Homo sapiens: one gene and its partner. The protein of the gene in region 1 purifies or fractionates together with the protein of each later gene. This does not show direct contact. Each region holds a gene or a part of one and is shown on either strand. Other genes may lie near its edges.

Region 1 (7,027 bases):
GATTCTTCTGCTCATTTAAAGGAAACTTTCCACCCAGGTTCCCGCTTTGCTTTTAAGGTGGAAGGTTAGACAGTGAGAAGATGGAATTATAAACTTTACATGAACAGTTCAGAAAAGAGACACTTTTCATTATACTGGACAGATGTTTTCTGCTGTAGGGGAGAGGAAAATGGGATTAAAAAGTTTTCGCCTTCTCTGTATCTGGAGATCCTGCACTTTGGTTTTCTCCAGGAGGGGTCAGGATGTTTGGCTGGGCTGCCCATGTCTTCGGCTTCCCACACTCCTCCCGTGAGCAGAGGTCATGACGTCTAGGGAGCCCTGGAAGCCCTTTTCTCACAAATTCACTTTAAACATCCCTAGGGTATTTAGTCAAAGGAGGTGAAATCAAGATACATGAATTGTAGAGGATGGAAAATTTCTATAAGACTAATACAACACATTAAAATCATGGAAATCATGAAATGCTCTTTTAATTTCACTTGTGAATGCAACAAATGAAGTCTCTTAACTCACTATAAAAAACTCAAGGAACTTGGTTCTTTCTCTGTGTGTCCCAGGAGAACAGAACACAGAGAACCTTCCTGTGTAATCCATGTGATGTGCTCCCGAGAACCCTGGCTAGGTGTTTGTGGAATGTAATTGAAAATCAGACGCTGCCTCGGGTCTTAGTGCTGGATGTGGAGGCATTTGTCTCTCAGCTCTGGAGGCCCAAAGTCTGGGATTAAGGTACCTGCAGGGCCTCGTGCCCTCAGAAGGCTCCAAGGAGGGGTCTGTCCCAGGCCACTCTCAGGCTTCTGGTAGTTCCTGGCTTGTGGCAACACAAGTCCAATCTTCACATGATGTCCGTGCTGTGGTTTCTTCTCTGTGTCCAAATTCCTCCTTTTTAGCAGGACATCAGTGGAATTGCATTAGGGGCACCCTACCCCAGTATGGCCTCATCTTAACCGATTACATCTGCATTAACTTCATTTCTGAATAAGGCCCCATCCTGAGATACTGGGGGTTAGGACTTCAAAATACGAATGCTGGAGGAGCACAGTTCAGCTCATGACAGGTTGTTTCTACATTTGAACCAGATCAGTTTATTAGCTATTGATCTGATTGCACAATGCCAGGTGCTAGGGGAGATTGCAAAACCTAAATAATAGAGTCTTGGGGGTTCCAGTACAGAAAATGTAACTCGAAAGACAAGAACAGCATGAGGCAGAAGGAAGTCAAGAGTCGTAATGTCAGATATGGATGAGAAGGAGCAAAAGAATCAAGGAGCTAAAAAGACCAGCATTTGAGCAGGTCAGACCCAAGACTTTGCTGACGTGTGGGTAAGAATATGGTTTGCATTTCCCAAACTGTAACCTGGCAGCCCTAGGTGATTTTCCACAGGCTTGCAGAAAATCAGCAAATCTGATGTTGCATAGGAAAAAAGGAAATACTTTTTTCTAGGTAAACTGGAGACTCACTTTCTGCTCAGTGTCAGGATTCTGGGGTTGGTTAGGGGCTGGGGTGAGGAGAAGCAGAAGTGCTCACCTGCTAGAAATGTGCCTTTTCTTAGGTCCTTTGGCCCTAAAAAGAACGTGATGAGTGATCACATGTGGTGGTAGGGTAAGGTTCTCACTCAGGCCCGTGACCTGTAGCCGTCATAAAGACTTGTTGATTGGCTAAGTCACTTATAGAGAAGTTATAATATGGTATCTCCAGACTGTGTTTTTAAGGAGACTTCTTTAAACCCTGCAAACTGAATAACTGGTTATATCAAGTTGCTTCTAACTAAACTACCCTGAATATGGTTCCAGAATAGTGAATTTTGCAATAATAAACATTTCCTTTTGAAGCATGTGACTTTATAGTCCTGTCTCAACCCTGAACCAGTGTGATTCTTGTTTGGGTTTCAGGCCTAGGGAAGAAGGTAGCTGGAACTGCATTTGCTGGCTCACTAAAAAGAAAGCAAACAAACTGAAATTCAATTTAAATCAGGAGTGCCTGAAGAGATTTCCTGAGAACCAGACTAGAAACTAGTGTTTATGTTGGCATCACACAGACACAGGAGAGCACACACACAAGCATACACACACGCATACATGCACACTTGCACATGCATGTGCACACACGAACTTATGCACACACGCATGCATGCCTGCACAAACATGCACATACGTAAACACATGCATGTAAATACACACACACACAGACACATGCGTGTACATAGACACGCACACACGCACACACAGACACGTCTGACGGGGGTTGAGGGAGTGGGGGAAGGAGTGCTGGCACATGTGGCATTCCATTTTCTCAGGGGCAGCTGCTCTGTGAACTCTCCAAGCCCAGTCCAAAGGATGCCATCTCAGGACCCGGCCCTCATTCTATTAATAGAAGTCACTCCAGAATCTGCCTGCTCGCCTCCTTTCTTTAGGCACTGCCTGCCTTTCTATACATCTTAAAAGAGAATAAGATGTCTGCCCAGCATGGCAGGCAGCATGCTCCTCTCGTTTGCAGGCGCTGTCCCTCGCAATACCCATACTGCAGATGAGGACCCTGAGGTCTGGCAGTTAGCTTTGCCCCAGGTCATCTGGCTGCACTCGGAGGCGGAAGATTCCAGCTCAAGACTGTGAGCTTTCTCATGGAAAACAAGACTGATTCTGCCACCTATACTGAACTTAGGGGAAGATTCGCAACCACTGCCTTCAGAAATTTACAAACCAGATCAGGAAAGGAGACGGAGGCAGCAGTGTAACTGAGCACCCAGGGGGGACAAAAGTGAGGACTGGAGGGGCTGGCTCAGGTCACCGGCCACAGGGGCAGAGTGGGAGCCCTCAGGAGTGCCTGGAGCCACTGCAGGTGTCTCACTTCTCGGGACATCTGGAAGCAGCTCTGCCCTTCAGTAGACAGACCCCAAAGGCACCCAGGGTAGGGCCCCTTGCCCTGGGGGAACCTGCAGAAGCTCCTGCAGAAGTCTGTGTCTGGGCCTTTCTCCCCGGCCGCAGAACGTGTGTTCCGTGTTCCTGTACCATCCAATAACTCACTGTAGTTTCTGGGCTTCCCTACTCTGTAGGGCTTACCAGATTTCCACTTAGTCCAAGATTTCAAACTGTGTGCATCTACACCACACACACTTTTAAAATTCAAGTACTATGTACACACGAACATCTCTCTCCCTTTAGAGGCCACTGATCACTCTAAAATGTAAAGAGTGGAGGCGATGGGGGCTGTGAGGTGAGTGGGGGCAGAGCCGTTTGTTCTTGTGTAGGGTGGATTTTAGCCGTTTGGATTGGAGTCTTGTGTAGGCTTGACGCCCACGCGTCTCTCACTGCACGAGGGAGGTGGCAGAGGCACATCATCCCTTTGGGCACGCAACTCTACCACGTGCATCGCTGGGAGATGGGAGGACTGGCATCCCCCGAACCCACGGGTCCCTGCCTGGAGACACTGGGAGACCCGGTCCTCTGCGTGCTTCAGAGTCAGGCACACCTGGCTTTGTTCCCGCAGCCATTTGCTCTGTGACTTCCGGCACCTGTCTAACCTCTCGGAGTCCTAGTTTCTTCCTCCTAAAAATGAGATGAATGATATCCACTGGTGGGGGCAGTGAGGTCATTACCAGGGTAAATGAGTAGATGTGCTGGGCACAAAGTCATTCCTCAGTACGCAGTAGTTACTGTTTTGTTGATTGACACTGAAAACCTTCCCCATCGTGTCCAGAAGACTGTAAGCCAAGATTTGAACCTCAGAGCCATCCAAATCCAGGAACACGGGTTAATTCTCACAACAGGGCAGACTCTTGCAACTTTCGGGGGCTGGCAGCCTCTGCATCCCACTCTGGACAGACCACCATTGTCTGGGTTGGTGGGCCTGCTGAACGTGGCTTCCAGGGCCCTCTGGTCAGCGCCAGATCTGGGCGCAGCTGCTGAGTGCACACAGCTGCTGGTTGGGGAGCGGGAGGGCTGAGCGGGTGGACTCAGGTTTCGCTTATATAAAGTTTCATGCATCAGCAGGGCCGGGAGTCAGAGATGGGAAGTGAGGGCCAGCCTGCCCCACCTGGTGTCTGCAGAGAGAGGGCTTTGGGGCCGCCCCGGTCCGACTGCTTCCCGGGTACAGCTTCTGACTTCTCCCTCCTTTATCAGTTCTGTCAAGTTAGGGTAGGAGAATTAATCTCTTGATGTTTTTATATTTCTAACTTTAGCTTTGAATTTTTAAGGTTTGATGCACCAGGCTGGCAGTTCTCAACTCTGTTTTTGCAGGATGGTGTCATGTCTGCTGGGGTCTCAAGGCGAGGCGGTGAGGGGAACTGAAATGGAATGTGTGCACAGTGTATTTCAAACACATGTATGTGAATTCATTTAATCATCCCTTTTACCAGGTTCCTATTGTGTGCGTGCTAGTGACCCAATCACACGCATGGAAGCGCACGCATGGATGCCAGCCATACCACCTCTTCAGGCAGGTCAGAAGAGAAATGCTAGGATCTTGGGTATAAAGTATTTGTGAGTTCTCAGGATGAAGGAATGTAGAGTCATCCAGCCCAGACGCCTCCTTTTGCAGATGGCTTCACTGAGGGCACCTGCATGTGGTTGTGTAAGCTGTGTACTGCCCGGTCTTGGGAGAACCGTTCACACTGTAGTCTAAGCAAATGGCTCCAAGGCCTGTGCTGGGAGGCGGCCCTGGGATACTGTGTATAGAGGTCAGCCTCCCAGGACACAAAGCAGAGTGGAGAAGGGTTGGGGTAGACGATAGAAGTGGCCCCAATTCTCCAACCCTCCCATGCCCCTGGCAAAGTGACCTTGTAGCGCCTCCATCAAGAGGTAGGAGTCTGCTTCCTCACTTCTTGAATCTGAGCTGTGACTTGTTTTGGCCAATGGACTGTGGCAGAAGTGGCCAGTGTTAGTTCCTAGCCCAGGCCTTGGAAAGGCTTGCACTTTTCTGCACTCTCTCAGGCCCTGTGTCTACCTCCGAGGAGACCCCAGGGCTTGGGTGCTGGTGGGGTGTGATCACATGGAGGAGAACTCAGTTGTCCCTGCTAGGCCATCCTGGACCTATCCACAGCCAGCCAACCTCAAACATTGAAGAGAGCCCAGCCAGGGTCAGCAAGCTGCCTGCCCTGCCCAGAGCAGGCACAGCTGCACCAGCAGGCCCGGACCAGGCTGACTCAAGCCAGCCACTGAGGTTTACCATGGCCATAGATAACAAATCACACACACACACATACATGCCCGTGCCATTCTTAACTAGGGGACATGCCGATATATGTAAATACAGTCCATCCCAATCACAAGAGTGCTTGTACCTTTGTTTAAAATACCCTCTATATCCTTTATTTCCTTGATAATTTCCTCTCTAGTATTTTCTCTATTCTCATTTTTTAGAAATCTTATTAAGACTAATCAGAGATAATATCTATTGAGTGCATACTGTATGCCAGGCACTGTTCTAAGGACTTTGCCCATAATAATGGATTTAACCCTCCTCACCACCCTATAAGGGAGGTGGTGACAGGATCGCCCCCATTTTCAGATTAGGAAACGGAGCTCCAGAGCGGCTGGTAACTGGCCATCGTTGGCTGGTGGGCTGCGCCCCCCCCCCCCGGCCCCGCCCCCTGCCCCTGCGGCTGCCAGGCCTGCTGGGTTGAGTCTCTCATTTGCTGACCTTTCCACTTGTATGTTTCTTCTCCTTCTGAAAGACATTTCCTTGACTTTATCTCCCAACTTTTCTACTAACATTTTTTATTTTGACCTACTTTGGCTATTTTTTTTTTAATTTCTAAAAGTTCTTTTTTCTCGTTATCTGGTTTCTCTCTGTTTCTTCCCTTTCAGTCAGTCCCTTCCTGTTTCTGGGAAGATTCCTCTCTTCCTGTGAACATTCATTACAGTTTCCTTGAAGGGTGCTTCCTTCCCTGCATTCACTGTCTCTGTTTCCTCTGAGTCCTCTTATGCAATTCTTTTTTTCCATGTTGGAGATTTACTGAAACATCATGTGATCTTTCAAGTGTGAGGCCCTCAAAATGACCAGGAAGTCCTGTGTGACTGCTGGGGCCCAGGGACATGCAGGTCTCGCCATGGGGCAGCCTGGTGATGCCCAGAAGTCTGAACCTGTTGGTCTCTTCTCCAGCAGCCGTGAGTCTCTCCAGAGACTCCTCCATCTGCTGCCTATCAGAGCAGTGTCCATCCTCACCTTGGCTCCTGTCCATGCTGGCCCTCTCCATGTTCTGGCCTCTTTGGTTCACTTTTCCCCAGAGAATAAGCCTCGGACCCCTGCAAGGATGGCAAGAGGGGTGGCCAGCTGTGATGGGGCTGGGGCCCCTAGGCCTGCATCTGACTCTCAGACAGGTGGCTTGTCTACCACCTGGGAGGGTGCACTTGCCACTGGCTACTGGGATGGGACCTTCTAGTCTCTGCTGAAGCCCCACCCATCCTCCGTCTGCTCCCTGCCTTCATAATGGTGGCCTGGGGATAGGTGTCTTCTAGTTTTTTTTGTTTTGTTTTGTTTTTTAGACAGAATCTCACTCTGTCACCCAAGCTGGAGTCCAATGGCACGATCTCGGCTCACTCCAACGGCCGCCTCCCGGGTTCAAGTGATTCTCTTGCCCCCGCCTCTCGAGTAGCTGAGGCTACAGGTGTGCGCCACCATGCCCGGCTAATTTTTGTATTTTTAGTAGAGACAGGGTTTCACCATGTTGGCCAGGCTGGTCTCAAACTCCTAACCTCACGTGATCTGCCTACCTCGGCCTCCCAAAGTGCTGGGATTACAGGTGTGAGCCAGTGCGCCCAACCAGGTGTCTTCTAGTTTTATTGAAGATGATGCTTGTGTTTCTTGTTCTCCTGGCTGTTTTGGAGGGATTTTTTTTCAAGAGAAGTGAGGCTGAAATAATTTTACTGTACTGCTTTGGACCTGGAATCTTTCCATGATGAGAAAAAGAGAGAGAGTGAGAATATATGAATGAATATCCATGTCCTATGCCCTGGGTTTCATATCTCTTCTTCTGAGTACTTTAAAATTACTAGAGAAAACAAAACTGGAAGCTGGTTATTTGAAATGTTCT
Region 2 (7,027 bases), on another chromosome or scaffold:
TTCTTTTAGTTCAGTCCCTTCTCCAGACCCAGAGCCTTTGGTAGGGGGCACTTCATAGATTGATTCATTTATTTTCTTCCTCTCTGTGACCTAAAATTCTCTAAACCTTGGTAAGCATACTATGTTACTTCTAAGAGATGGCATATTTGTAGTGTTATTTTGTGGGTAGAGAAAGGAAAATGAAAATTGCAATGGGCAAGATTCCCACAATGAACATTCCCTGGAGTTAGTTATGATTTTGGGATACAGGATTGTTTCATGCTGAAACATGCTGCCTGGTATGTTGCTGCTCACGAGTCTCCAGGCCCTCTTAGGATGTCTGTTAAATTCTGTGCTAGCAGGGGGCCAAAACAGGCAACTTCATCTGAACTGGAAAGGTCTTGTTGCCATATGGAGGACTGCATTTCCGTGTATTTTTACAGGGGTGGGGGAATAAAGCACCAGAGGTTAAGACAGTAAGGGGCAGAGGTACATCTCTTGCCTGATAACATCTGCAAAACATTGAGCTCGTCAAACATATCTGGTGATTCCAGTTCTCCCTACAGGGATTCAGAGAACTGTGAGCCACATTGCCTGCCCTCAGGCTGGCACAGGGACATAAACATTATAGAACTAAGAACAATAAAAATTTGAACAATTTAAAGTAATTATATTATAGACGGTACATTTATTAAACCTGAAGTACACAACATAGATGTTATTTGCTATAGGGTTCGGGAGCTGGACATAATCCCTTTTAGGCTAAAGTGGACAGGGAAGGCATCATAGAGAATGTGGAACTTTAACTGAGGATTCAGAGTTAAAGAGAACAGAGTAGATGGTGATAGGAGCCTGTCCGATTAGGACAGCAGCATGAAAAAAGTTGAGAAAAGTGAAAAGATGGTTGAAACCTGAGTCTAGCAGTCTAGTTTCTCCATTCACTGATTCCGTAATATCTCTTTAGCCCAAGGATCAGCAGACTTTCTCTTGAAGGACCAGAGAATAAGTATTTTAGGCTTTGTGGTTATATGGTCTCTGTCACAGCTTCTTATCTACTGCTATAGTGCAAAACCAGCCATATGTAAATGAATGAGTGTGGCAGTGTTCCAATAAAACTATATTTATGGATGGTGAAATTTGAATTTCATATAGCTTTTTACATGTCATGAAATATTATTCCTCTTTTGGTTGTTTTTCAGCCATTTAAAAATATAAAAACCATGCTTAGCTTATGGGTTCTACAGAAATAGTTCGCTGGACCAAATTTAGCCTGTAGCTGTAAATTTGCCGACCCCTGATTTAGCCCACTAACATGATAAACTAGGAATACGTTATGCAAATAAATTATAAGCGTATGGAGTTTCATTCTAAGAATATCCACTAGAAGATCCAAAATTGAAAGCTATGGGAGGTGAGTACAGGTTCAAGTAGTTGGAAAATAATGGCTCATTATTTAAGCTTGTAAATTGATATTTAAAAAAACCAAGAGTCAACATGGTACTTTAGCCCATGCCATTGCATTTTTTAATAACCTTAGAAAGAAGGCCAGGTGCAGTGGCTCACGCTTGTAATCCCAGCAGTTTGGGAGGCCAAGGCGGGCAGATCACGAGGTCAGGAGATCAAGACCACAGTGAAACCCCATCTCTACTAAAAATACAAAAAATTAGTTGGGTGTGGTGGCGGGCGCCTGTAGTCCCAGCTACTCAGGAGGCTGAGGCAGGAGAATGGTGTGAACACGGGAGGCTGAGCTTGCAGTGAGCTGAGATGGCGCCACTGCACTCCAGCCTGGGCGACAGAGTGAGACTCCGTCTCAAAATAAAGAAAGGAAGAAATAATAATAATAATAACCTTAGAAAGAAAGACAATTTAGTGATTGGATGTTCTTGCAAATGAATAGCATTTTCAAGGATTTATTTAATCAGGCTCCTCCTAAGAGTAGCATGTTCTGACAACAGCTATAGATTTATCAGAAAGCAATCTTTGGATATTGGTGGTAGTTGAGTTGCATGTTGATCATTAAATGCTGTACTCCTTTTGCAGGCATGGTCTACATGGCTGGACTTGTTTTTGCTGTTGGTGGCTTTAATGGCTCATTAAGAGTTCGCACTGTAGATTCCTACGACCCTGTGAAGGACCAGTGGACCAGCGTTGCTAACATGAGAGACCGGAGAAGCACTTTGGGAGCTGCTGTGTTAAATGGATTATTATACGCTGTGGGAGGCTTTGATGGGAGTACAGGTAATTTCCTTTTCATTTATTCTACATTGCTGCTAAAATTAACGTAGTAGTCATGTTTATGGAATAAATTGTGGCAACATTAGGGCACATGTGAGGTTTTTTGTGTTTTTTTTTTTTTTTTTGAGATGGAGTCTTGCTCCGTCGCCCAGGCTGGAGTACAGTGGCGCAATCTCGGCTCACTGCAAGCTCCGCCTGCCGGGTTCATGCCATTCTCCTGCCTCAGCCTCCCGAGCAGCTGGGACTATAGGTGCCCGCCACCACGCCCGGCTAATTTTTTTTGTATTTTTTAGTAGAGACGGGGTTTCACCATGTTAGCCAGGATGGTCTCAATCTCCTGACTTTGTGATCCGCCCACCTCGGCCTCCCAAAGTGCTGGGATTACAACATGTGAGGTTTTAACTGGTATTTAAAGATAAGTTTAAAATTTTATCAAGAATTTCCTTAAATGATATGAGTGGTGAGTATATAAATTTTCTTTCTTATGCATCAGTATCAGTCATCAAATTTTAAAAGCTTATAAATATCAGTAGCTTAGGTAGGAGCCTTCTGGAAAACAAGCTGTACCTGTTTTTCATGTAATTGCTGTGTTTATGTTCCACCATTTTCTTCTCTTAATTTTAGCCCAGTATAACATACCTGAAGTATTTTTCCATATATATGAACTATTGACATTTTTTAGAGAAGGAAATGAAGACTATTGTGCTTTATTATAGGTTTGTCATCTGTGGAAGCATACAACATAAAGTCTAATGAGTGGTTTCATGTAGCTCCCATGAATACAAGGAGGAGCAGTGTTGGTGTGGGTGTTGTTGGAGGTAGGTGTTGACAGTTCTTTCAGGTACATGTGGCATTTTGATCCTTGAGAGTGGTTCTTCCAGTAATCTCAACTTTAGTTTTCTGAATGGGCAAGCTAATTATCATTTTAAAAAGAAAAGTCGTAATTACTGTAAAATTTCAGTTATCCTCTTTTTAAAATTAGCTTCTCTATATAAATCAACCTATATAAAGCCTTTTCTCTCCCTCTCTATCCCCCTCCCTTTATCCCTCCTCCTTTCTCTCTGTGTGTGTGTGTGTGTGTGTGTGTGTGTGTGTGTGTTTGACTTATATAACTGTGTGTGTTTGACTTATATAACACGTGTGTGTTTGACTTATATAACAGCAGTCCCCAACCTTTTTGGCACTAGGGACTGGTTTTGTGGAAGACAATTTTTCCATGGACAGGGGTGGGTTGGGGGGATGGTTTTGGGATGAAACTGTTCCCACCTCAGATCATCAGGCATTAGAGTGTCATAAGGAGTGCACAACCTAGGTCCCTCAAATGTGCATTTCAAGATAGGGTTCACACTTCTGTGAGAATCTAATGCCGCTGCTGATCTGACAGGAAGTAGAGCTCAGCTGTAATACTTGCTCACCTGCCGCTCACCTCCTGTTGTGCAGCCCGGTTCCTAACAGGTTCCAGACAGGTACCGGTCCATGGCCTGCGGTTTGGGGACTGCTGCTGTATAAGACTGTCAACTGATTTTAACAGTTGCTTGGGGGAACAATTCAGGTGACATAAATGTGTAATTTTATATCTGGAGAAGGGCTGTTAAGGGATGGATTGCCACAGTTATTTATTTATATCCTACTTTGTCTCCCAACAGAAGTTAAGGAAGGCTCTAAGTATTATTATTATTATTTTTTTTTAATTGACTTGGGCAAATTTGCAGGTTTCCACCCCCTCCTCATCGTAGGTGTAATCTGTGCACTTAGAAAAAAACAGCTTTATTGTGATATAATCCACATCATACAATTCACCCATTTCATGTATACAGTTCATTGTGCATCCATCACTGCAATTCATTTTAAAACATTTTTATTATCCTCTAAAAGCAATCCTGCTTCCCTTGGCTCTTACTCGTATCTTACCCAACCTTCAGCAACTGCTAGTCTACTTTCTATCACTTAGAGATTTGCCTCTTCTGAATATTTTAGTCATACAGTATGTGATCTTTGGTGACTCACTTCTTTGGCTTAGGGTGATGTTTTCAAGATTTGTTTATTTATACTGAGGCATTTATTAGTACTTCATGCCTTTTTAATGCCAAGTAATATTGCATTGCATTCTGTTATTAATTTTTGATTTAACCTTTTTTCCGATTTCCTAAGATAACTTTGGTATTTAATTCTGTCTTACAGGATGTTGTTCACTTATCAAATAGTGTTACCTAAAGATATAATGAGTGTGCTATTTTATCAGATTATTGATGAAAGTATAAAATTAACATCATCAGCTATACCCTGCAGATCTTCATAACATGATTTGATTACCCCATCTGTCACCATTAGGCAAGACCCTAATATATTTCATAAAAATCAGCAGCACTTTAAGGGGAAACTCTGCTGCCATGAAGGAAAATATATTAATATTTTCTGGCTTGAAAAATTAGTGTTTTTTGTTTGTTTGTTTTTTAATAAATTTGGCTTTCTATGTGATTTTATGTGTAGGTTTGCTCTATGCTGTAGGAGGTTATGATGGAGCATCACGTCAGTGTCTTAGCACAGTAGAATGCTATAATGCTACAACAAATGAGTGGACCTATATAGCAGAAATGAGCACCAGGCGGAGTGGAGCAGGTACATGTGAACCTGTTTTAGCAACTGAAGCACAAAAATGATGGAAAATAGTTAAAGTAAAATGATTCAGTGGCATCACTTTACATTATCTGAAAATATATGATATGCTGATTTTAGTGGCACTGCTAAATGTCTTTTGAATTGTGCAGGTAATGGGAGTAATTACAAAGTAATTTTACTTTAAAATTTAATGTCTAAGTGCCATAGACATTTCTGTTTCATTTATATATTCAAGTTGTTAGCACTCCTTTTAGTTTTTTGTTTTTAGTGCTTATTGGGGAACTTGCTTAATAATCAAGTCTTTTCATGTATATTTCTTAAAATTTTGTGCTTTAATATGCGGTTATTTTACTATGGATATTGTTTTCAAAAGGATTACATTAAAGGACTTTTTCCCTCCCTGTGTTTCACCTACATGTTATTAATATTTTTATTCTGTTTGACATGCCTCTTTTTTCAGAATAATAGTTTGTTGAGATGCTTATTTAATCATCAATTGTATTGATTTCCATTTCTTAAATTGTAGGCTATAGTATCAGCTTGCTTTTATTATGAATTATAACTTCGAAAGTTTTAGTTACAAGTCATTTAAATAAACCTAATATGATATAAATCTCTTGTTCTTTTTGCCCCTCTATTTGGCTGGTTGTGTTTTATAGGTGTTGGTGTGTTAAACAATTTATTGTATGCTGTAGGAGGTCATGATGGCCCTTTAGTACGAAAAAGTGTTGAAGTATATGATCCCACCACTAACGCATGGAGACAGGTTGCAGATATGAACATGTGCAGAAGAAATGCAGGTATCTGTCAGTTTAAGGTTATAAAACTTATGTTGAATTTTATTTTAAGTTTCACTGGTATCACTCTATCAATGAATATCAATGGTATTTCCATTGTTCTTTTACTGATCTGGGTTCCCTGATAGACTCTGAACTCTTTAAAGCCAGAAACTTATGTAATAATCCTATAAAGTGAATGCCTGCCATAGTCTCTGGAACATAACAGGTTGTTGTGACACTTCAGTAAACTCATCATTTCTACTAGCTGCTACTTTTTGGTGATAAATGTGGAGACTAATTAAATTAGGTGTAGACCCTTTAAATGATACTGAATTCATTCATTCTTACAACAGATATAATTTAGTGCCTACTATGTATCTATCATACACTGGAGATCCTAGTTCTCAGGAAATTTAGTCTAGTTGAGTAGATATTTATACTAGGTTAAAAAGCTAGTTGATTATCTAAATCTAGAGGGGAAGTCTGCAAAGGTAACCCTAGCTTAATACAGTTCAGGATTTCCAGAAAAATGGAAAAACTAAAGCAACAACAATAACAACAAATAATTTTAAGAAAGTAGAGAACTTCAAGATTAGGGAACTAACCACTTAAAAAGAAGAATCAAGAAAGGGAAATACAAATGGAAAATAGACTCAAGATAGCTACATAGCCTTTCAGGAAATGCTAGGATTCTTCAAAATGCCATTATCTTCATGTCATTTCTCATAGTGTAAAATAAGTTCCTGGTGAGTCTCAAACTTACTGTACACCATTGGACACCCCCCTCCATCAGCGCTCATCTTAGTTTCTCTTTAAAGAAGGGTGATTACTAAGAGAGACTAAGTATGTGGAACTGCAGATACTGTTGGCAGCAGACCAGAATTTATAGTTAATTCTGTTTGGCCTTGCACGTCATCTAGTCAGTTGTATATGGTAATCAGTTCGTTAGATGGTAAGACCCTCAAATATGGGTCCTTAGTAGAATAAGTGACTCCAGTATACATTAAGTTAGAAAAGCCATGGTGATTTGTGCATGTGTCTTCCTGGATTAGGAAATTTAGTTGCAATTTGAGCTTTTTATGAATATTTTCTTAAAGGTTAGACTAATTTATTTTTTCTCTATATGTGTTTATTGTTTTCATATCAAAATTCACTCATTTAGGTAGAAGAATAAAGAGATAATTTGTATATATAGAGCTACCATTATCCTGTTCTTCAAAAAATTGTGTGGGAAAGGGTAGGATTTAGGAAAAAGACGTAAGTCTCTGTTGAAAAGTTGTTTCATATTTTGATTTAGACAACATTACTTGAGTTTATTTGATAATCAGGAAGAGAGAGAAATCTGAAAGCTTACTTTTCAGTTTGTTTTTCCTTCTCAATCAATGATGTTTATTTTCTATGCAAATAACAAAATT

What was found. The genes of interacting proteins can lie anywhere in the genome.
Region 2: the proteins of ARHGEF7 (region 1) and KLHL2 purify together in Homo sapiens (affinity purification with mass spectrometry; 3 studies listed by BioGRID and IntAct, with this or other methods). This does not show direct contact.

The regions. Positions count from the first base shown.
Region 1 is NC_000013.11:111,118,302-111,125,328, forward strand, and holds part of ARHGEF7 (rho guanine nucleotide exchange factor 7), read left to right. Parts: intron 1-7,027. UniProt on the Homo sapiens protein: Acts as a RAC1 guanine nucleotide exchange factor (GEF) and can induce membrane ruffling. Functions in cell migration, attachment and cell spreading. Promotes targeting of RAC1 to focal adhesions. May function as a positive regulator of apoptosis.
Region 2 is NC_000004.12:165,308,534-165,315,560, forward strand, and holds part of KLHL2 (kelch-like protein 2), read left to right. Parts: intron 1-2,019; coding exon 2,020-2,217; intron 2,218-2,930; coding exon 2,931-3,032; intron 3,033-4,395; coding exon of another isoform or gene 4,396-4,418; exon of another isoform or gene 4,419-4,543; intron 4,544-4,704; coding exon 4,705-4,833; intron 4,834-5,492; coding exon 5,493-5,633; intron 5,634-7,027. UniProt on the Homo sapiens protein: Substrate-specific adapter of a BCR (BTB-CUL3-RBX1) E3 ubiquitin ligase complex that mediates the ubiquitination of target proteins, such as NPTXR, WNK1, WNK3 and WNK4, leading most often to their proteasomal degradation.